3 separate regions of the Homo sapiens genome follow, and regions 1 and 2 are each reported to be linked to region 3. The links are microRNA targets in miRTarBase. Many come from high-throughput screens and were not tested one by one. Region 3 holds a microRNA gene; each other region holds the end of a gene's coding sequence.

Region 1 (7,190 bases), not on the chromosome of region 3:
AAGGCAGAAGCCAGAGCACATGAATAAATGAGCATCCATTTTGTTTCAGAAATGATCGGAAACCATTTGTGGGTTTGTAGAAGCAGGCATGCGTAGGGAAGCTACGGGATTCCGCCGAGGAGCGCCAGAGCCTGAGGCGCCCTTTGGTTATCGCAAGCTGGCTGGCTCACTCCGCACCAGGTGCAAAAGATGCCTGGGGATGCGGGAAGGGAAAGGCCACATCTTCACGCCTTCGCGCCTGGCATTGTGAGCAACCACTGAGACTCATTATATAACACTCGTTTTCTTCTTGCAACCCTGCGGGCCGCGCGGTCGCGCTTTCTCTGCCCTCCGCCGGGTGGACCTGGAGCGCTTGAGCGGTCGGCGCGCCTGGAGCAGCCAGGCGGGCAGTGGACTAGCTGCTGGACCAGGGAGGTGTGGGAGAGCGGTGGCGGCGGGTACATGCACGTGAAGCCATTGCGAGAACTTTATCCATAAGTATTTCAATGCCGGTAGGGACGGCAAGAGAGGAGGGCGGGATGTGCCACACATCTTTGACCTCAGGTTTCTAACGCCTGTTTTCTTTCTGCCCTCTGCAGACATCCCCGATTGAAAGAACCAGAGAGGCTCTGAGAAACCTCGGGAAACTTAGATCATCAGTCACCGAAGGTCCTACAGGGCCACAACTGCCCCCGCCACAACCCACCCCGCTTTCGTAGTTTTCATTTAGAAAATAGAGCTTTTAAAAATGTCCTGCCTTTTAACGTAGATATATGCCTTCCCCCACTACCGTAAATGTCCATTTATATCATTTTTTATATATTCTTATAAAAATGTAAAAAAGAAAAACACCGCTTCTGCCTTTTCACTGTGTTGGAGTTTTCTGGAGTGAGCACTCACGCCCTAAGCGCACATTCATGTGGGCATTTCTTGCGAGCCTCGCAGCCTCCGGAAGCTGTCGACTTCATGACAAGCATTTTGTGAACTAGGGAAGCTCAGGGGGGTTACTGGCTTCTCTTGAGTCACACTGCTAGCAAATGGCAGAACCAAAGCTCAAATAAAAATAAAATAATTTTCATTCATTCACTCATTTATTGTCAACATTTATTGAGCACCTATTACAACAATTTCATCGCATGGAAGACAGCATCGTTTCTGACACTGTTGTTTCATGTATCTCTTAGAAAAACGCTGCTATTAGACATCTAACACTATTTATCTTGAGGTGATAAAATATCAAAAGCCGTGTCTCAAGATCGATGAAATGCGGTTAAAATGATGAATAGAAACTCTAGGGGGACCTCATATCGATAGACTCGAGACTGGCACATCTGGAGATCCGTATTTATCCGGCTTCCCCTTCCAGATCACGCGAGGTTTGGGATATTTTGCTCACCAGGCCTCAGCCAGGTAACTGAATCCAGCCAACCCTGGCCCATAGTCTCGGAATCCGACTCGGCTCCCAGTCCCCGCCTCGGCGTTCTGAGACCCCCAGGCTGGGGTTCCAGAGGGCTGTGAGGTTGCGAATGACTGCTGCCAAACCGGAAGGAACTCTGCGGTTCTCTGCCACAGTGGGATTGTTGCAGGCACGCGGCTCAGACTTCACTGAGGTTGGGAGATGCTCCTGTCCACGCTGCCTCATCCCGTGCTGGAGCACTGCACCTCTATTTTTTTTTTTAGGGTACACGCCACATAACATAAAACTAAAAATTTTAAAGAGTAGAATTCAGTGGCATTTAGTACAATGTTATGCAACCATCACTCCTATCTAGCCCAAAACATTTTCGTCAACTGCATAGGAGGCCCCATTAAGCATACCTGTTAAACTCTTCTTGCCTCCAACTCCTGGCAACTACAAAACTCCTTTTGTCTCTATGGATTTACCTATTCTGAATATTTCTTATAAATGGGATCATACAATATGTGACCTTCCGTGTCTGGCTTCTTTCACCAAGTGTAGTGTTTTGGGGGTTCATTCCTGCTGCAGCATGTATCAGTACCTCATTTCATTTTATGGCTGAATCATATTCCATTGTATGAATATACTGGAAATTGCTCGTCTACTCATCCAGTGATGAACATCGAGTTGTTTTTTGGCTTAAAATTATTCATAGTGTTCTCATATAAATATAAATATGTAATTATTATTTTTATCCATATTTATTACATTATTTATATTTTTATATTTTTATTGTATTATAATAATTTTATAATATTATACTATGATAATATAACAGACTGACTCCTATGGTCTGTCAGTGTGCTCTTCCACTGGCGTGCTCCCTTCCGCTGGGGTGCCCCGCTCCACGTCCAGTTCCTCCGATGAGTTCCTCTGGACATAGAGCCGCTTGTGTGTCTGCCTGCTAGGGTCTCAGGGTTTTCATAGGCAAAGGATGGGGGCGTGGCGGGACAGGGTGGTCTTGGGATATGCAACATTTGGGCGTGAAGGAAGGAGTGCCTGTCCTCACCTAGGTCCAGTGGGCACAGGCCCAGGGGAGGGCCCTTACCAGGGACCCGCCTTTGTCTACCCAACACTTCCCTGCCCCTCTTCTCTATCATTGCGTTTCAGTTACCTTTGCCTTGGTTCAGCACTCACTTGGTTGCTGTAAAACTTTCTTACTGTTTCCCAGAGTTCCCACGAAGTCAATTCTGGCAGCTTTTGCTTATTTTTCTGTGTTTCTATATAGGAATGGGCCCTGCGAGCTCACTACTGTGCCACTTTTGCTATTATCTTTTGTTGTTGTTGTTGTTCAATTTGTTTTGTTTTAGGGCAGGATGGTCAAATGCTTATGATGTGCCAATTTCCTGCCTCCATATATCTCCTGTGCCTGGTACGCAGTGCCCATGCCCGGCATCCTCACTTTCTGGGCATCTGTCTGTCAACATTTCTCTGAAGCTCGCTAGCTCTACCACTCAGCTGTCCCCCTGAAAATTTTCTCCACCTTCCCCCGCAGCTGTAGGAAGCTCACCTTCCTCCTTACCCTTCCTCAACCCCACTCCTGTTCTCTCCCTTTTTCCCCCTTCCACCCCCATTTCCCCGACTTCTGCTGGGGGTGGGAGGGATAACCGATTCACAGACATTCCCCTCCCCCTCGCCGCTTCTCGGGAGATTGCTGGTTCGCAGTCCTACGCTCCACTCGCCAGCAGGCTCCGCTGTGGTGTGAGCACCTCCGGGAGCGCAAAGGCGTCCGCTTTGAGGCACTGGGCCTCGGGCCAGGCAGAGGCTATCTCCGGGACCCTTTTATGGAGATCTGCTGTTAAAGCCCACGCGTGTTTCCCGAGCACACTGAGCACACGCATACTGGGCCTGACGACTCCAGGGAGGGACCTGCTCCGGAACCGCGGACTAGACCCGGGTCCCAGAACTACCCGTGGAGGAGGCCGCAGTAACCTCCGAAGCAGGCTGAGAGACTCGGGTGGGCTTTCTCCAGTGAAAAAAAAGAAGCCAGAGGGGAAGGGTAGATGGAGCAGGAAAGAAGGACGGATTCTAAGCATGGCTGTTCGAGGCCCTGAGGCTGCAGAACTGACTGCGGGACTGCGGTTTGGAGGCGGGGACTTTCCAAAACCACGGACGAAAGAAACCTCCCAACCAACCGATTAAGCACGGGGGCTGTGGAGCAGAAGGGCAATAAAAGGCCCTGCCCACCGAAACCTGTAAAAGTTTCCTTTGTAAGCACGCGTCACGAGCGCGGGTGACGAGGCCCAGGCGCGCCCGGGTGCGGCGACCTCGGAGCCCGCGGGACGGGAGAGCAGCCCTTCCTTTGGCCGGGCCTCCAGCACCAAAACTGGCTGGGATCCTTCCTGGGGCCCACGCCAGTGCCACACCCCAAGTACTCTGGATGCAGGCCAGGTGGGAGGGTCTTCACCTCCACCTCCTTCCAGATCTCACGTGTCTCATTTACGTAATAAAGTTCAGGAAATAGCAGAAAACAACTTTTTTTTTTTTTTTTTTTTTTTTGAGACGGAGTCTTTCTCTGTCGCCCAGGCTGGAGTGCAGTGGTGCGATCTCGGCTCACTGCAACCTCCGCCTCCCGGGTGCAAGCGATTCTCCTGCCTCAGCCTCCTCAGTAGCTGAGATTACAGGCGCCCGCCACAACACCTTTTTAGTAGAGACGGATTTTCACCATTTTGGCCAGGCTGATCTCGAACTCCTGACCTCAAGTGGTCCGCCCTCCTCGACCTCCCAAAGTGTTGGGATTACAGGCCTTAGCCACCGTGCCGGTCCAGAAAAGCACATTTAAAAACTACAGATTGATATCCTTGTTGGGCATTGATGCTAAAATCCTTAACAAAATACTAGCTAACAGAATCCAACAACATATCAAAAAATAATCCACCATGACATGATCAAGTGGGTTTCATACCAGGAATGTAGGGATGATTTAACATATGTGATACACCACGAAAACAGAATTAAAAACAAAACATCACATGATCATCTCAATAGATGCAGAAAAAGCATTTGACAAAATTCAGCATCCTGTTATGATTAAAACTCTCAGCAAAATTGGCATACAAGGGACATACCTTAATGTAATAAAAGCCATCTATGAAAACCCACAGCCAACATAATACTGAATGGGAAAAGTTGAAAGCATTTCCTCTGAAAACTGGAACAAGGATGCCCACTCTCACCACTCCTCTTCAACATAGTACTGGAAGTTCTAGCCAGAGCAATCAGATGAGAGAGAAAAATAAAAAGGGTATCCAAATCAGTAAAAAGGAAGTCAAACTGTCACTGTTTGCTGATGATATGATCGTTTACCTTGAAAACCCTAAGGACTCCTCCAGAAAGCTACTAGAATTGATAAAAGAATTCAGCAAAGTTTCTGGATACAAGATTAGTGTATACAAATCAGTAGCTCTTCTATACACAAACAGCGACCAAGCAGAAAATCAAATCAAGAACTTAACCCCTTTTACAGTAGCGGCAAAAAAAAAAAAAAAAAAATCAAATCAAATCAAATACTTAGGAATATGCCTTACCAGGGAGTCAAAAGACCTCTACAAGAAAAACTACAAAACACTGCTGAAACAAATAATAGACAACATACAAATGGAAACATATCCCATGCTCATGGATGAGCAGAATCAATATTGTGAAAATGACCATACCGCCAAAAAAATCTACAAATTCAATGCAATCCCCATCAAAATACCACCATCATTCTTCACAGAATTAGAAAAAACAATTCTAAAATTCATATGAAACCAAAAAAGAGCCTGCACAGCCAAAGTAAGACTAAGCAAAAAGAACAAATGTGGAGGCATCATGCTACCTGCTTTCAAACTATACTATAAAGGCACAGTCACCAAAACAGCATGTACTAGTATAAAAATAGGCACATAGACTGATGGAACAGAACAGAGAACTCAGAAATAAACCCAAATACTTACAGCCAACTGATCTTTGACACAGCGAACAAAAATATAAAACGGGGAAAGGACACCCTTTTAAACAAATGTTGCTGGGATAATTGGCTAGCCACATAATAGGAGAATGAAACTGGATCCTCATCTCTCACCTTATACAAAAATCAACTCAAGATGGATTAAGGACTTAAACCTAAGACCTGAAACTATAAAAATTCTAGACGATAACATTGGAAAAACCCTTCTAGACATTGACTAGGCAAGGATTTCATGACCAAGAACCAAAATGCAAATGCAATAAAATCAAAGGTACGTAGCTGGGACCCAGTTAAACTAAAGAGTTTTTCCACAGCAAAAGGAACAGTCAGCAGAGTAAATAGACAACCCACAGAGTGGGAGAAAACCTTCACAATCTATGCGTCTGACAAAGGACTGATATCCAGAATCTACAATGAACTCAAACAAATCTGTAAGAAAAAAAAACAAACAATTTCATCAAAAAGTGGGCTAAGGACATGAAAAGACAATTCTCAAAAGAAGATATACAACTGACCAACAAACATGAAAAAATGCTCAACATCACTAATGATCAGAGAAATGCAAATCAAAACCACAATGCTATACTCCTGCAAGAATGGCCATAATCAAAAAATCAAAAAACAGTAGATGTTGGCATGGGTGTGGTGAGCAGGGAACACCTTTACACCACTGGTGGGAATGTAAACAAGTACAGCTACTATGGAAAACAGTGTGGAGATTCCTTAAAGAACTAAAAGTAGAACTACCATTTGATCCAGCAATCCCACTACTGGGTTTCTACCCAAAGGAAAAGGAATCATTATTTGGAAAAGATACTTGCATACGCATGTTTATAGCAGCACAATTCACAATAGCAAAATCGTGCAACTAACCCAAAAGCCCATCAATCAATGAGTGTATAAAGAAACTGTGGTATATATATATATATATAATGGAATACTACACAGCCATGAAAAGGAATGAATTAACAGCATTTGCAGTGGCCTGGATGAGAATGGAGACTACTATTCTAAGTGAACTACCTCAGGAATGGAAAACCAAGCATTGTATGTTCTCACTGATATGTGGGAGCTAAGCTATGAGAATGCAAAGGCATAAGAATGATACAATGGACTTTGGAGACTTACGGGGAAGAGATGGAGGGGGCGAGGGATAAAAGACTACAAATATGGTTCAGTGTATCCTACTCAGGTGAAGGGTGAACCCATATCTCACAAGTCACCACTAAAGAACTTACTCATGTAACCAAACACCACCTGTACCCCAATAACTTATGAAAAATAAAAAAATAAATAAATGGGCAGCATTTGCTATCCTATGAAATTGGAAAAAATAGAACAAAATAAATGGATACATCATCATTTCCCTTTTCCACTATTTGAACTGTTCTTTGAGTGAGTTGTCTTACAACATTTCAGTAGTTTTTTCTGAATTCTCAACCGTCTCTCAAATAGCTAACATCATAATTGACTGTTGCTACAATTCTATCTATAGACTGTTTGGTCTTAGAGAACTATTTCTCTAGGGAATAGAAGCCAAAGAACAGATCAGAGAACATTGCTGTTACATATTCTGTCTATGGATTACTATTTGAGATTAAGTTGTTACCTCCATTAATATCTTTAAGGCATTTCTGAAGAAATTGAAAATAAGCATTGCGAAATCCCTGTCTTGATTCAGAAGGATAATGTAGCTGCCCCAGAGCCTGTTTGCATTCATTACTAAAAAAAGATGTATGAAATCTGGAAGGAAGTAATGCGCAGAGCTCTAACTCTGTAGGTAATATTCTCATTCCTTAC
Region 2 (7,190 bases), not on the chromosome of region 3:
GCCTATAATCCCAGTTACTCGGGAGGCTGAGGCCGGAGAATTGCTTGAACCCGGGAGGCAGAGGTTGCAGTGAGCCGAGATGGTGCCACAGCACTCCAGCCTGGACAAGAAGAACAAGACTCCATCTCAAAAAATATATATATTTATTTTCTTCCCATTTTAAATCTGGAATACTGCTTTGTGTCTTAAGACTCAGCCCGAGTGTCACTTTCAAACTTTTCTCCCTCCACCCTGGATGAATATCTCCCTTTCTGCTTTCTTCTTTCCCTTATCACACTGATTTGTAACTCTTTGCCTCTGTGTCTCCCCTAGCTGCAGGAAGGGCACAGTCTTGTACCTCTGGATCCAGTGTAGGCCTGCAAGGGTCTCAGGTGCAGGATGTGGATGGGAGAGAGTTTGGTTGTGAAAGGGTTAAGGGGTGATTCCTGGTGCACAGAGCAGGCCACCTCCCACCCTCTGGTTGTTCTCTTCACAGATCAATAAGATGGAGTGGTGGAGCCGCTTGGTGTCCAGTGACCCTGAGATCAACACCAAGAAGATTAACCCTGAGAATTCCAAGGTGAGCCCTGGCTGGTTGGGGGAGCTTCAGCAGGAAGGTGAGGGGCCTCGTTGTTTCCAGAGCTTCACCGATTCCTGTCACTGCCTGCCCTCAGCTGTCAGACCTGGACAGTGAGACTCGCAGCATGGTGGAAAAGATGATGTATGACCAGCGACAGAAGTCCATGGGGCTGCCAACTTCAGACGAACAGAAGAAACAGGAGATTCTGAAGAAGTGAGCAATTCAGAGACGGGGTTGGGGGACCGTGGGTGCCTGGGGGCTTAGACTTCGGTGACAGCAGTGAGTGGATCACTGCGCTGCCTCAGGAGCTGCCCTGCCCCCTTTCCAGCCATGTTTATGGCTTTATGGCTTTGGCTTGCCTACTCTTGTCATTTGCTGAGGTCATCTTGAGGGCAAGGCCGGCTCATGGTGCATGATAGGAGGGAAGGGGTAACAGGCGGTCATTGCCACCTACAGGAAAACAATGCCAGTGTTGGTGCCTCAGCTTCCAGCCTCGGGACTCAAATGCGTCTCAGATACCCTGGGCCCTGCTCCTGCCCAGCCTGGCTTGGTGTTGCTGAGGTCTAAAGAGATTAGACTTGACACGGGGGTGCTGGGAGAAGGGACAGCTTTAGAAGAGAAGGATGAGCTGTTTCATCTTGCTTCCGTTTCTCCAGGTTCATGGATCAACATCCGGAGATGGATTTTTCCAAGGCTAAATTCAACTAGCCCCTGTTTTTTCCTCCCTGAACTCTTGGGGCTGAGCTGCAACCACCCAACTTTCTTTCCCACTCTTCTCTGGGACTTGTGGGCCTCAGGGCTTGGGGCAGGCATGGGACTGGCCCAGGCACACAGGTCCCGGGGCATCAGGAGAAAGGCTGGGTCTTGGGACCTTGTCCTCCCCAGTTGGCCTACTGTTACACATTAAAACGATTTGCCCAGCTCCTTCTGTGTCCTCTCTTGCCTCTGGCCTTTCTCTGGGGCACAGGCCTCTTACGGCTGCTGCTGGGAACTGGGAGTTTGGCTTCTAGCCCAGATTCTGCCATGTGACCTAGGGCACATCCTTGCCCCTCTCTGGGCCTCAGTTTCTCATTACTTAAAGATTAAAACAAGGCTTGGCCGGGTGTGATGGTTCATGTCTGTAATCCCAGCACTTTGGGAGGCTGAGGGGAGCAGATCACCTGATGTCAGGAGTTTGAGACCAGCTTGGCCAACATGGAGAAACCCAGTCTCTACTAAAAATACAAAAATTAGCCGGGTGTGGTGGTGCACACCTGTAATCCCAGCTACTCGGGAGGCTGAGGCAGGAGAATCGCTTGAACCCGGGTGGCGGAGGTTGCAGTGAGCCGAGATTGCACTACTTCACTCCAGCATGGGTGACAGAGACTCCATCTCAAAAAAATAAATAAATAAAACAAGGCTTTTAGTCTATGTATGTTTCTGAGCAAAGGTTGAGTTTTTCTGGCTACAGAGACCAGAACACATGTCAGATTCTCAAAGGGGCGCATGACCCAAAAAAGTTTTAAGACCGCTGGACTTGTTGATCTGATTTTTACTTCCCACTGCAGCGGGTCTGCCCTCTAGCCGTGAATCAAGTATTCTTGAAACTAGAGACTATTGTGTCCCAGGGCAGAAGAGCAGCAAGGGCCAAGGTGACACTGCCTGGCTCAGGGGAGGGGTACCAGGAGGACAGCTCAGGCCTCAGATCTGGTGTGTGTGGTACAGGGACCTTACCAGGAGGACAGAGTAAAGTCCAGTGAGGCTCCATTGTTTGTATCTCAGACCTGGACCTCTGCAGATTCTAGGCCTTCTCAAAGCCAGCTCCCAGGGCTGAAGAGGTGCTCCCCTTTGCTCAGATCCAGCCCACAGAGCTGACCCCTGCCCCACTTTGGCTAGAGAGTGGAGGTCAGAATGCTTGGGCCACAGAGGTTATAGCAAGAATGTCTAGGTTGACTTGCTGTGAGTGCTTAGTTCTTTGGCTCCTAAATTTCTGGAACACAGATGTTTTTTTTAGAATTTGAGAATAGCTGGGCACAGTAGCTCACGCCTGTAATCCCAGCACTTTGGGAGGCCAAGGCAGGCAGATCACTTGACGTCAGGAGTTCGAAACCAGCCTGGCCAACATGGAGAAACTCCATTTCTGCCAAAAATATAAAAAGTTAGCTGGGTGTTGGCCGGGTGCGGTGGCCCAGGCCTGTAATCCCAGCACTTTGGGAGGCCAAGGTGGGTGGACCACAAGGTCAGGAGATCGAGACCATCCTGGCTAACATGGTGAAACCCTGTCTCTACTAAAAATACAAAAAATTAGCCGGGTGTGGTGGCGGGCGCCTGTAGTCCCAGCTACTTGGGAGGCTGAGGCAGGAGAATGGTGTGAACCCAGGAGGTGGAGCTTGCAGTGAGCAGATATCGCGCCACTGCACTCCAGCCTGAGCAACAGAGTGAGACTCCGTCTCCAAAAAGAAAAGAAAAAGCTGGGTGTGGTGGCACGTGCCTGTAATCACAGCTACTTGGGAGGCTGAGGCAGGCGAATCACTTGAACCTGGGAGGCTGAGGTTGTGGCGAGCCAAGATCGTGCCACTGCACTCCAGCCTGGGCAATAGAGCGAGACTCTGTCTCGGGGAAAAAAAAAATTCAGAATAGCTTGTTAAAGATTTCAGAGAGGCTATGCAGTACATAGCTTTGTCTGTTTTCCAAACTTGCTAAACCTTTTTTTTTTTCCTGGGAATGCAAATAATGGTTTAAAAGGCTAGGTTTGGAAAATGGTGCTCTAGGGCTGAGGCTTGGTTCGTGGTGTCACTCTACCGCTCTGTACTCCTGTTCTGCCCCGTGGTCATTTTAATCTTTTGGAGGCCTTGACCCGGATGCGACAGCAGAGCCTGGAGTTAGAACTGAACCCTATGTTCATAGCCCTGAGAGATCATCCTGTTTCCCTTAGGAAACTGGACAAACAAGTACAATTTGTCTAGTAGTTACTTTCCAAAGGGTGCCTTTCGGAACAATAAAAAGGGCGGTGGGGGCAGCAGGTCAGATGGGAGCTGGAGTGGGGGGATCCTCAACACTTTCTAGCTTGTTTGTTAATTAAGAATGGGCTGGTGGGCCTGCCCCGGCCTCTCTGCTGAAAGAGGACCAGTAGATAAGCCTGTGTGTGAGGAGCAGCCAAGTAGGATCCTTCTGAACTCATCTGGGCTCTGCTACCTAATGAAGGGATTCTGCATCTGCCCCAGCAAGGCCAGAGCCACAGTTACTAACTGCGTGTCCCACTAAGTTCCTTGACCTCACTGTGAGCCCCACGTTTCCTCTCTGTGAAAGAATAATGTCCTTTCTCCAACGTTATTGGAGAGGCCAAGAAGATACTGGTGAAAACCACAGTGCTGGCCAGGCGCGGTGGCTCACGCCTCTAATCCCGGCACTTTGGGAGGCCGAGGCGGGCGGATCACCTGAGGTCAGGAGTTCGAGACCAGCCTGACCAACATGGAGAAACCCTGTCTCTACTAAAAAATACAAAATTATTTGTGCGTGGTGGCGCATGCCTGTAATCCCAACTGCTCGGGAGGCTAAGTTAGAAGAATCGCTTGAACCCGAGAGGCGGAGGTTGCAGTGAGCCAAGATTGTGCCATTGCACTCCAGCAGCTTGGGCAACAAGAGCAAAAACTCCATCTCAAAAAAAAAAAAAAAAAAAAAAAAACCACAGTGCTCTGTTACTACCACAGAGAGAGTGGAAGGGGAGCAGCAGGTCCAAGGCTGGGTAGGGCCAACAAATGATCAAGGCTTTGGGGAAACTGTGGGCTGGGCAGAAGCAGGCCAGCCTGCAGGCAGTGGACTGGGAGAGCAGAGGCAGTTCGGACAGGCCTCCCTAGAAGAACCTCTCAAACAATGTCAGAAACCATTTATCCAACCTTTCTCAGGCACAGACTCTGTGCTTGGTTCTTTATCTCCTGGAACTCACAGTGAACCTGAAATGGGGGCAGCATTACTCCCATTTTATCCTTCCTACTTTAACTGCAGGGCACTAAGCCAGGCTGGACACATATCCTGTCTCCTGCTCTGGGCAGCAGTTAAGTGAGGCAGATGGGAGAGAAAGGACAGCCAAGAAAGCAGGCAGATACCAATTACCTTTGTACTTACAAACTGTGGTCATGTTAAGATACAGAACATCAGCCAAGAACCAGAACCAACTCCTTAACATAACATAGAGTGGGCCCTGCCCACCCCCCAATACAATACATTTAAGATAAGCTTCTTTTAACTGTTGAATTACCCCAGGGAGGGAGAAGTTTGCATGATTGGTTAGGGTGGCAATAGGGGGATGGAGTCAGGGTTCACTCCCAGAAGGTAATGCCTAACTCCTTACTTTCCATGATCAGGCCACCTGAAGACCATGAGCAGGAAGGAAGGGGCCCTGGCAGGGATCAGACCAGCTGGGGATGCAAGGAGATGTAGATCCCATGGCCCAGTGAAATGCACATGGTCCAGGAACCCAGTCAGCCAAGGCAGGAGGAGCCAGAGTGGGCACTGCTTCAGGTCTAAGCCTCTCCCACAGGGGTTCCTGGTCCCCCTCTTCATTCTGTAGGCCATGCTTCTCCCAGAAAGGGTGTGGCAGCTGGGCCTGGCAGGGGTTAGCAGTACACCTGGAGCAAGGGTGCCCCCGACGAGTCTGTGTCGGTGCCCTGGAAGGATGAGTCATGGCTTGCTGGGTACCCTGGTAGGAAGGAGAGGAGAGGAGGAAACAGGCTCAGGGGAAGGAGCTCATCCAGATCCCATGACCAGGGAGAAGCCTGCTGAGAAGGAGCAGAGTGGGACTTGAGCCTGGGTCAGTCTGATCCTGGCTGGATGACCCACTCAGTTTATTGACCTCTCTGAGCCCTAGCCTCCCTTTCTGTAAAAGGATAATGATTCCACTCCCAGGGGGTTGTTGTCAAGGGCAAGAAGACCGCAACAGAACCACACGGGTGTCTTTCCAGCACCATGCTGGATGGCTCCCCACCCACTACTTTCCTAGTCATCTGGGCTTGAAGGTTGGGGTCTGATCACTTTCAGCTTGCCTGTTCTGGGCACCTGCACCCACTTTAAGCCAGCTTGCTAGATGGAGACAGGTCTGTGGCTGCTTAGGTCCCCGTCCCTTTTTGATGTCATCCTCATCACCCCAAAAGAAAGCTGGGAGAGCAGCAGGTGAGGGGCCCCTAGGGTAGTCCCCCACCCTCCACACCCCTCATTAGGTCAAGACCACACCTGGAGCTCCATAAGGCCTCAGCTTCCGGGCGATGGCATCTGCAGTCGTCTCCTGGGAGATCTGCACTGTCAGCTCTAGGGAGGGAACGTGAGGCAAGCAGTGGTCATTAGCACGTTCTTTCAACCCTATTTCCTACTTCTGTTCCCAGCCCGATGAGGGAGGAGCCACTCACTCCTGGGCAGGGCTAGAAAAATAATGCTTAAAGACAGAGACATAGACAACGTGTGCATGCGCAGAGTGATGGATGAGTGGGAGTTTTGGTTAGCCCAGAACAGGTCAGAGGCCCAAATTCATGTGGGTCCCTAGGTCCTGTTCACCAGACCAGGCCTAGAAGCTACTCTGGCAGGAGACAGCAGAGGAGAGGAGCCTTTTGGGTAAACTTGTTGAATGCAGAGGGAACCTTGACCTTTCTGGGGACAGCAGCGATGGCCAGAGAGCTCTCCCAGGGTCTGCATGCTTCTCTCAGCCTTGCTCGGACCTCACCAGGAAGGGCCAGAGTGGGAGCTGGGGAGAGGGGATGCAAGAGTTGACAGAAAGGAGGAGGAAAGGCAGGGACTGGCTGAGGGGTAGACCCACAGTGACTAAAGACCCCATTCCAACCCTCCCCTGGCCAGAGCCTCCCCTACTCTGCCCCTCAGCCCCATGGGGCCCCCACCTACCATCCTGGCTGAGACCTGAGCCCACCATGGTCTCATGGCCACTGTCAGGGGCAGCAGCGGTTGGGGCAGCAGCCCGAGTTGAACGACCCTCCGAGGTCTGTGGGCGAGCACGGCTCTTTCGGGTACTAATGCGAATGATGCCGCGTACCAGGCGGCCCTCAGCATCCTGCTCATCCAGGTGGTAGTCCTGCGTGATGCTGCTGATAAGGTCCGAGATCTTACTGGTCTTCTCCAGGAACACAGTGTCTGATGTGCACTTGGCCAGCTCATCGATCTGGTGTACGCTGAACAGCTCTGTCAGCTTCTTGAAGATGAGCACATCAATTTCTCGGCTCGACATGGAGCCACTGCCCATCTCCGGCAGGTCCAGGTCCGACTCATGGAAAGAATAGTACTCCTCGGAGCCACGAGGACTACTGGCAAAGGTGCTGGGCAGGCTGTGTCGCATGGGTGGGGGATCGGCCAGTGGCTCCTTGCAGCAGGAGTCCGCATCAGGGGCTGGGGAGGTGGCCCTCGGGTAGGGATACACAGGGATGCCTTTGAGCTTAACATCGGGGTAGCTGAAGCTGCTGCCCATGGTTGACTTGAGCCGCTGGCCATCCCGCCGGCTGGGGGGTGCACGATCAGGGCTGGGGGGCACTCCATTGTGCTCCTTGGCCCAGTTGGCTTCAGCAGTCCCCTCAGTGGAGTCCTCAGTAGACAGGCAGGGGCTGCATCCCCGCACACAGGCTCCACAGCGCTGGAGGCAATCCCGGCAGCGGCG
Region 3 (7,190 bases):
CTCCGGGGCCTTGGGGCGACTTATTTATCTGCCAAGGCAGTTTCCTGACTTCAGGGAAGGGGCCAGGAGAGAATTAAGTAAGAACAAGCAGCACCTGACACTCAGAAAAGTGTCCCTAAATGTTCGCCACCTTTATTAATAGTACAAATTAATGGGTGACCAGCCTCCATTGTGGGATGGAGCCGGAAGCTGCTCTCCAGGCCTGCTCTCACCCAGATACATGGTATGTTTCGACCACACAGGAGTTCTTTTAAGGATGAATGATGATGACCGCCAACGTTTAGGTGTCCGCAGATTTTACAGAAGCCTTTGGCCATTTGACTTCTCCTGGTCTAGTGGAGCCTCTAGTTTTCTGGGGCCTGCCTCTTCCTGTCCATAGACAACCGTAGCTGGGGTGCGGCCGCCCCCTTTCGGCCAGCAGCACACACACCCCTGTGCCTGCCACCACTTGTGCCTGTCACTCATCTCTGAGTGGGGCCTGGCCTCCTTAGGCATTTGCACTTGTTCTCCCTGCAGTAAAGTGGAGCTATTATTATCTTATAAGAAACAAGGGTCATCATCAGAATTGGGCAGGGACCCAGCAACTGAGTTCTGGCCGGGGCCTCCTTGCCTTTGCTGTGACATTGGTCTGGAAGACCTGGGCTGATGGATGAGCATTGAATGGCCGGGTCTGGGGAGCCATCATGGCTGCCTGCCTTCCTCCTGGTGGGCCCCTTAGTAAGCTGAGCAGAAACACAAAATGGCTAGGGCAGTTACCATAGCCACTTAACGTCTGTGCATCCCTCGGCCTCCCTCATTCTCGTCGGGATAGGGATGACTTAGGAAAGCCAGAGGAGGCCCAGGCTGCTATGAAACCTGGGCCTTGCTTTTCAGCACAAGGATTTCAAGAGGAGAGGAGGTGAGGGAGGAGGGGAGTTTCTGTTGGGGCTGTTGTGGGCCTCAGGCGGCCCCTGAGTTAATCCGTATTCGTATTCAGAATTCCCTCCTTTTCCTTAGTGGGTCAGAGTTCTCTCTTGCTCATCCAGGCCTCAGAGAAGAATCCATGGTAGTTGTGACCACAGCTAGGCCTTAACTCCTTCAGAGCCATGTACATGAAGGCTCAGAAGATCCCCTCATCTTCTGAAGAAGTGTGAGTCTCCTCCTGTAGGCTTCCAAGGGACGCTAGGGTTAGCCATACTTGCACAGCCTGCCCCACACTCAGGCTTCTTGGCACAGAGAAGCCCTTCCTCTTACTGATTTATGGTGCCTACCATGTTCTAGGCATTAGAGAAATGCATTAATTTACTCTTCATAGCAAACATATGGGAAAACTGAGGTACGCACAGGTCAGATAGCTTGCCCAAGGCCACACAGCAGGAAAATCGTGGAGTCCGGATTTGAACTCCAGTGGCTGGTCAGGCTCCAGAGGTCGCCTTTCAAATGCTGCCTGGAAAATGATGGAGCTGATGGAGGAGTCCGAGGTGATGGCTCTGGTGAGTCAGGAGCCTGCCAAGTCACAGGAGCTGGGGAAAGAGCACACTGGACAGAGGGGACAGCCAGTGGAAGGGCCCTGAGGTGGGAAAGAGCTGGCCATGAGCTGTAGGGAAGCAGGAAACCAGTCTGGCTGCAGGAAGTGAGCAGGGGCCAGGGAAGGAGCTGGGGTAGCTGAGGAGGCAGCACCATAAGGGCAGCCCACGGCCATGGCACTGGGGTCTGATTGCAAGTGCAGCGGGAAGCCCTGAGGCTTCTGAGCAGGGCCCTGCTGGCTTGAAGGTCTCCCTGACTAGGAGATGGGATTCTTGTGGCAAGAAGAGAGCGGGGAGAGCAGGAGCTGAGCTGCCCCACATTGGGTAGCTGGGGTCTTTTCACTGAAGGGGATCTGATATGGTTTGGCTCTGTGTCCCCACCCAGATCTCATCTTGAATTGTAACTCTCACAATTCCCACGTGTCATGGGAGGAACTGGGTGGGAGGTGATTGAAGTATGGGGGTGGGTCTTTCCTGTGCTGTTCTCATGATAGCGAGTCTCATGAGATCTGATGGTTTTAAAAAACGGGAGTTTGCCTGCGCAAGCGCTCTCTCTCTTTGCCTGCTGCCATCCATGTAAGATGTGACTTGCTCCTCCTTGCCTTCTGCCATGATTGTGGGGCTTCCCCAGTCACATGGAACTGTAAGTCCAATTAAACCTCTTTCTTTTGTAAATTGCCCAGTCTCAGGTTTGTTTTTATCAGCAGTGTGAAAACGGACTAATACAGGGTCCATCTGGGAGAGGCTGCCTTTCTCTGAGGCCTCTGGCTTGGCAGTGTAGAGAAGGTTCACTAGTGCTTCTGGAATCTTCCTTGGCCCTTTGGGACTCAGCCTATAGTCAGAGCTGGTTCCTTAGGCCTTAGGTGGGGCACCCTTGGAGAGCTCCCTCGGGTAGGTGTCCAGGTGCCAGGTATGGCTCCGGTTACTGTGGTGCCTCCCTCCCTTCGTCTACCTGGTGCTTCTAGAGGCTCGGCTCAGCCTCGTCTTGGCAGCTGGGCCAGGAGGCAGGGCTCTGTGGGTTTCCCATGTATATTTCTTGATAGGTGAGAAAGTGAGCCCCACCTGTGTGGCTCAGCGGTCAGCACCTAAGGCCGCATCTCCAGTTCCACGACAGAAACACCAGGTCATGTGCATGGGTGGCTGGCGCACACCATCAACACCGTGAAGGCATCTCTTTGCCATTCCTGGTGCCCCCACTGGAGCGGGCGTCTGAACTCTGGAGATTGAGAACCTGGGGGCTCTGGTGGGGCACAGAGTGCCCAAGCCCCTCCCCACTAGATGGCACGGCCGCAGAGGCAGTACGGATGAGCATTCAGCACCCCTTTTCTGGGAGGGTCACCTGGGGCGGGGTGCGAGGACCCCTTTGCCCTGGGCACCTGTTGGACCTGAGTCCGGGTCCCAGCTGTTCTACCTCACACTGAGGTCGTGGTCACCTGTGTGGGTCTGGGTTTTTTGTCCGTGACAAAGGTTGGGACCAGAGGTAGATGGGTTTGCCTGCTCTATTGTTTCATGATGGAAACAATCCTGGTTGGTTGCCTGGTTTCTGCTTGGGTTCCCATTCCTTGCCCCGGCCCTACAGGATCAGTGGAGCACCATAGCCCTGCCTCCTTTCTCTGGCCAGCCAGAGGGCTTCAGAAAAGGCTTATCTAAGCCTGGCTTCTTGCCCTCTGTTCTTGAGGGCCCTGAAGAATTTGACTCTGGCAGATGGCTTCTCTCAGATCAGACACAAAGGCCTTGGAGATTGGGACTCCACACCCATTTCATTGAAACCTGCTCTCCCCCCATCAGAAAAAGGGCCATGTTTTCAAAACCATAACTGCTTCTCTCTTAAATCAACAATAAACAACAGCCTAAAGATTGCCCGTGAAAGTAAGTTCCACTGATGGCCGTTCTGGCCGTTGGAAGCAAGATATCAAGTTGGAGTGTGACCGCAGGCGATCATGCCGCAGGTGAGTGTGTGTGCGCCTGGTTTCATTTCTGTTGTTAATCCTTTGCCCTGTTTTTCTCTTTGTTTTTATTCCAAACCTGTCTGCTCCCAAGGGTCCCTGTCTGCTTCCAAGGGTCCCTGGAACCTTCTGCAGCTGTGCCTCTCCAGAGCTCCGCCTCATTAGTGCCACGTTCCTGGTTTGAAAACCATAGTACTTCAACCTCTTCTAGATGGGAGTTAACCTTTGCCCTCTGAAAGAAAGGTTTGATAAGCAAAGAGAGTTTGGTGAGCAAGATCCTTGAGGTAAGAGCTGATCTCTGACGTCCGCTGGGAACTGGCTGCTCTGCAGGTTTCTGTATCACATTTTCTGCACATGTCCATTAGAATTGGAGATGGGGCGTATCTAGTGTTGAATAAAGGCCCGGCAGGCCCTCCCAGATGCACCCTGTCAGACAGAGCCTACTGTGGATTCTTTAGAAATGGCTTGACTCATTCTTGGTGGCGACCACACCACCCACAGGCACCTAAAATGAAAGGATTTTTGTTAGCTGGTTACCACCAAACCACCTCAGGCAATACGTGGGAGACTCCAAACCAGCTGCTGTTAAAAAAAAAAAAAAGGCAGCAGAGCAGTCATAGAACAGACCCTTCTTACTGCTGCATACAAGATGATCCCATGGAATGCAGGCAGCCACAGCTTTGTCCACATGTGCTCTGTGTATCTGGGGCTGCTAGGCTGGTTAGATTTGTGGTCTTCTTCCTCCTGTGGAGGACCCTAGAGAGAGCCAGCCTGAGCCCTCACCGTTGTTCCTTCCCCGGCAGCACTTACAGAATGATCCTCTAAGACCTCCCCTCCAGCCCTAGCTGGGTTCCTAATTTTCCAGCTATTTAATATCTTCTTTATGTCTCAGTGAATGTTCCCAGGCAGAGTAGCCAGACAGACTCATACTGACAGTTCTCAACAGCCAGTCCCATCCTCCTAAAGATCTCCAGAATCAGCCACATGGACCTGATGCTAGAGGCCTGTCAGCACTGGGGGACCCGGGAGAAGCAGCTCAGGTCTTCAGCAGAAGCAGGGAGGTTCTCCCAGTGGTTTTCCTTGACTGTGAGGAACTAGCCTGCTGCTTTGCTCAGGAGTGAGCTGCCGGCTCCCCTTTGATGTGCTGCGTCTGTTCAGAACTAGGCAGGGGTGCTTCACCGTGGCAGCACTTGAGTTAGGCAGTGGTTCATGGACTCTTCTCCCAGGGCCCCACACAAAACACTGTTAGCACAGACCTGCCACTCAGATCAAGGTGGCCAGCAGAGCCATCAGAGAATAGCCTTCAGAAGATGAATGGCAAGGCCAGCCGGCAGCACGTGAGGCCAGGGCAGAGACGCAGTGAACCGTTCCATGGCGCCCCGAGCCTGCTGCCAAGGCCTCCTTGGAGCTGAGATGGAGGCGGGGTGGCTGAGAGGCAAGCTGGATGTGCATGTTTGGGAAGAGGGCTCCGTAGAAAGTGCTGTAGGGGCCTTGGCTGGGGACCACGTGAGCCCTTGTGCGGAGAGGGCCTGTGTCTGTGGATCTGGGGTCCACCACAGGCCACTGAGATGGGACAGGGCTGGGAGGATTGAGGAGGGAAGATCCTGAGTGAAATTGTGAAATCAGGCCCAGCCTCATGTGGGAGGTGAGGAGAAAGGACCCTTCCAGAGGGCCCCCCCTCAATCCTGTTGTGCCTAATTCAGAGGGTTGGGTGGAGGCTCTCCTGAAGGGCTCTGAAGAGCGCTGCACCCGCAGCTGTGTGCCAGGAGTGGAGACAGGACAGTCGATACAAGAGGGGCCCCTGTCATGTCAGCTGCTGAGTCCCCTGGGGCGGCCGGGCACTGGGGAATGGTGAACTCGCCGTGCCGCGCCTCTGCCACAGTCTCCCGTGGGTCCCCACTGCCGGGAGTTTTACCTACCTCCCACCCTCAGCCACGAGCACCTGCAGGATGCGGTGCCATCCTCGCCGGTGCCCGCTCCCCTTCCGGAGGCTCTCTCCACCCTCACTGACGCCTCCTCGGGAAAGCCCCCGCTCCTTCCCCGACCTCACAGCATGCCAGGTCTGGGGCTTCCGCTGGGGGGCTTACCTGTTTTCCACCCCTGCTAGACTGGGAGCTCCAGGGCAAGGCCGTAGCTGCCTTGCGGATTGTTACGTTGTCCAGCTTGTCTCCACACGTGATACCCAGCAGGTGCCTAATAAACTTGTGTAGAAAGAGTGGTGGATGTTTGCTCTTGTATTTACTCTTCATAGAGCCCAGCTCTGCTTGCTAGAGTCCTCGAAGCAAGTGCGCAGTGTCTGACGGTCTTGGGTTGCTTCTGACTCATGGTGGCTGCTTGGGGGTCATGCTGGAAACATGGCACCCTCAACTCCTGCGTGGAACCAGTTGCCCCCACTGTGATTCCTCTTGCTGCGGCTGGCCCTGCCTTCATGGCATTAGCGCAGCGGGGAGTTGCGGGCTCACTGTCTTAACACCTGTCTCCCCCACCAGACTAAACCCCAAAGGGCAGAACTCTCTCATACACTTAGGACGGAGCAGGTCTCAGGTTATTGCTGGACGGACCAATGGATGAGTGGATGGACAGAGCAAAAAGATGAAAAGACAGGAAGGCAACTGGGGTGTGACAGGCAGGGTGGCCTGACGCTCCCTGTGTGGACAAGACTTGGTGGGAGGTGCCGGGCATGGCTAGGAGGACTTGGGGTGCAAAGTGTCCCCACATCTGTCCTGAGGGCAGAAGCAAGGGTGAGCCTCCCTCCTGCTAGAGCTGGCGGAGTCTCCAAAATAGAGTCCGGACCTGCAGGAACAGTGGCCCTTCCCAGTGCAAGAACGTCACTCAGAGTTGAAAGTTCTGGGGTCTCAGGGACCCCTGAAGTCCATTCTTGAGCCCTTCCCGTGGCTGTGGCCTCCCCTTAGGCAGGGGAAAGGGGGCCAGTGGGGAGCTTCCCCAGGGGCCTCTCTGCAGGAGGCCGCTGGGCACATGGTGGCCCCGCGCTGGGCGCTGTCAGCAGAAGTGCCTGGATCCAGACCCTGGTGGAGACAGCAGGCCAGGAAACCAGTGGCCCCTCTGCCCCCCACTGGGGCCCCATGAGTTACACCAGCCAGGCCCCACAGCTGAGGTACCAGGCGGAAAAGGCCTTGTGTGAATGGGGCAAGAGGCCAGGGGCGCTGGGGAAGGCCAGGAAGAGAGCAGAGAGGCCTTCACTCACACGCAAGCGCACGCCCCAGGGGCTCAGGCCTTGAGACATAGCTTGAGGTGGGGGTGTGGGGGGCTCCCTGCTTGTTCCCGCTAAGGCTGGCACCCCAGCCCTCTCTTTTGGGTGTCCCCATGCCTGGGCTGTGCCGTAGCACAGTTCATGGGAGCCCTGCCCCCAGGCCCTGCAGCCCTCACTGCCCCCAGCCCTGCTGCAGGGTTGGCCTCCCTTCTGTCACCCCACCTGCCACTCGCCCCTCTGTCTCGGGAAAACCCACTGTGATTCCTTTCCAAGGCTGACCTTCCTTCTGGTGGCTTCTGCCCCATTCCAGCTCCCCTTTCCCCATGGGATCATTAGACACCGAGCCCTCCCGAGGGCCCAGCCATGTGGGTGGAACACGGCAGTCACAGAAGAGGGAAGAGCCCTTTCTGCATGGAGCTTGCTTCTGGAGGGGAGAGACAGACCACCAACAGGAAGTGGGTGGGCTGTGTCGTGTGTGGAAAAGCGGCATGCTGGGAAATGAAGCGGGGCAGGGGAGCAGCAGCGGCT

What was found. Region 3 holds the annotated microRNA hsa-miR-296-3p (GAGGGUUGGGUGGAGGCUCUCC, at 5,154-5,175, shown strand). A microRNA usually pairs through its seed, bases 2 to 8, with sites in the 3' UTR of a target mRNA and lowers its output. Matches are read on the target gene's strand: a 7mer-m8 pairs with bases 2 to 8, a 7mer-A1 pairs with bases 2 to 7 and ends in A, and an 8mer does both.
Region 1: the mRNA of CDKN2A is a reported target of hsa-miR-296-3p. The part of its 3' UTR that is shown has no 7-base or 8-base seed match.
Region 2: the mRNA of NUDC is a reported target of hsa-miR-296-3p. The part of its 3' UTR that is shown has no 7-base or 8-base seed match.

What each region holds. Positions count from the first base shown.
Region 1 is chr9:21,961,631-21,968,820 of GRCh38, reverse strand. CDKN2A (cyclin dependent kinase inhibitor 2A) reads left to right here. Exons shown (of 3, transcript NM_000077.5): 3 at 579-1,069. The coding sequence ends at 592. It overlaps CDKN2A-AS1 (CDKN2A antisense RNA 1), which reads right to left and starts at 1,682. Exons shown (of 1, transcript NR_024274.1): 1 at 1,067-1,682. RefSeq lists a cis regulatory region at 5,840-5,842 and an enhancer at 5,768-5,912.
Region 2 is chr1:26,944,915-26,952,104 of GRCh38, forward strand. It overlaps NUDC (nuclear distribution C, dynein complex regulator), which reads left to right. Exons shown (of 9, transcript NM_006600.4): 7 at 476-559; 8 at 654-772; 9 at 1,216-1,957. The coding sequence ends at 1,267. KDF1 (keratinocyte differentiation factor 1) reads right to left here. Exons shown (of 4, transcript NM_152365.3): 2 at 6,428-7,190; 3 at 5,768-5,842; 4 at 4,648-5,237. The coding sequence ends at 5,155. Among named protein-coding and RNA genes, the nearest start is that of KDF1, 12 kb to the right of the region's middle. RefSeq lists a silencer at 3,324-3,618.
Region 3 is chr20:58,815,611-58,822,800 of GRCh38, reverse strand. It overlaps MIR296 (microRNA 296), which reads left to right and starts at 5,107; the gene lies at 5,107-5,186. MIR298 (microRNA 298) reads left to right here and starts at 4,488; the gene lies at 4,488-4,575. It also overlaps GNAS-AS1.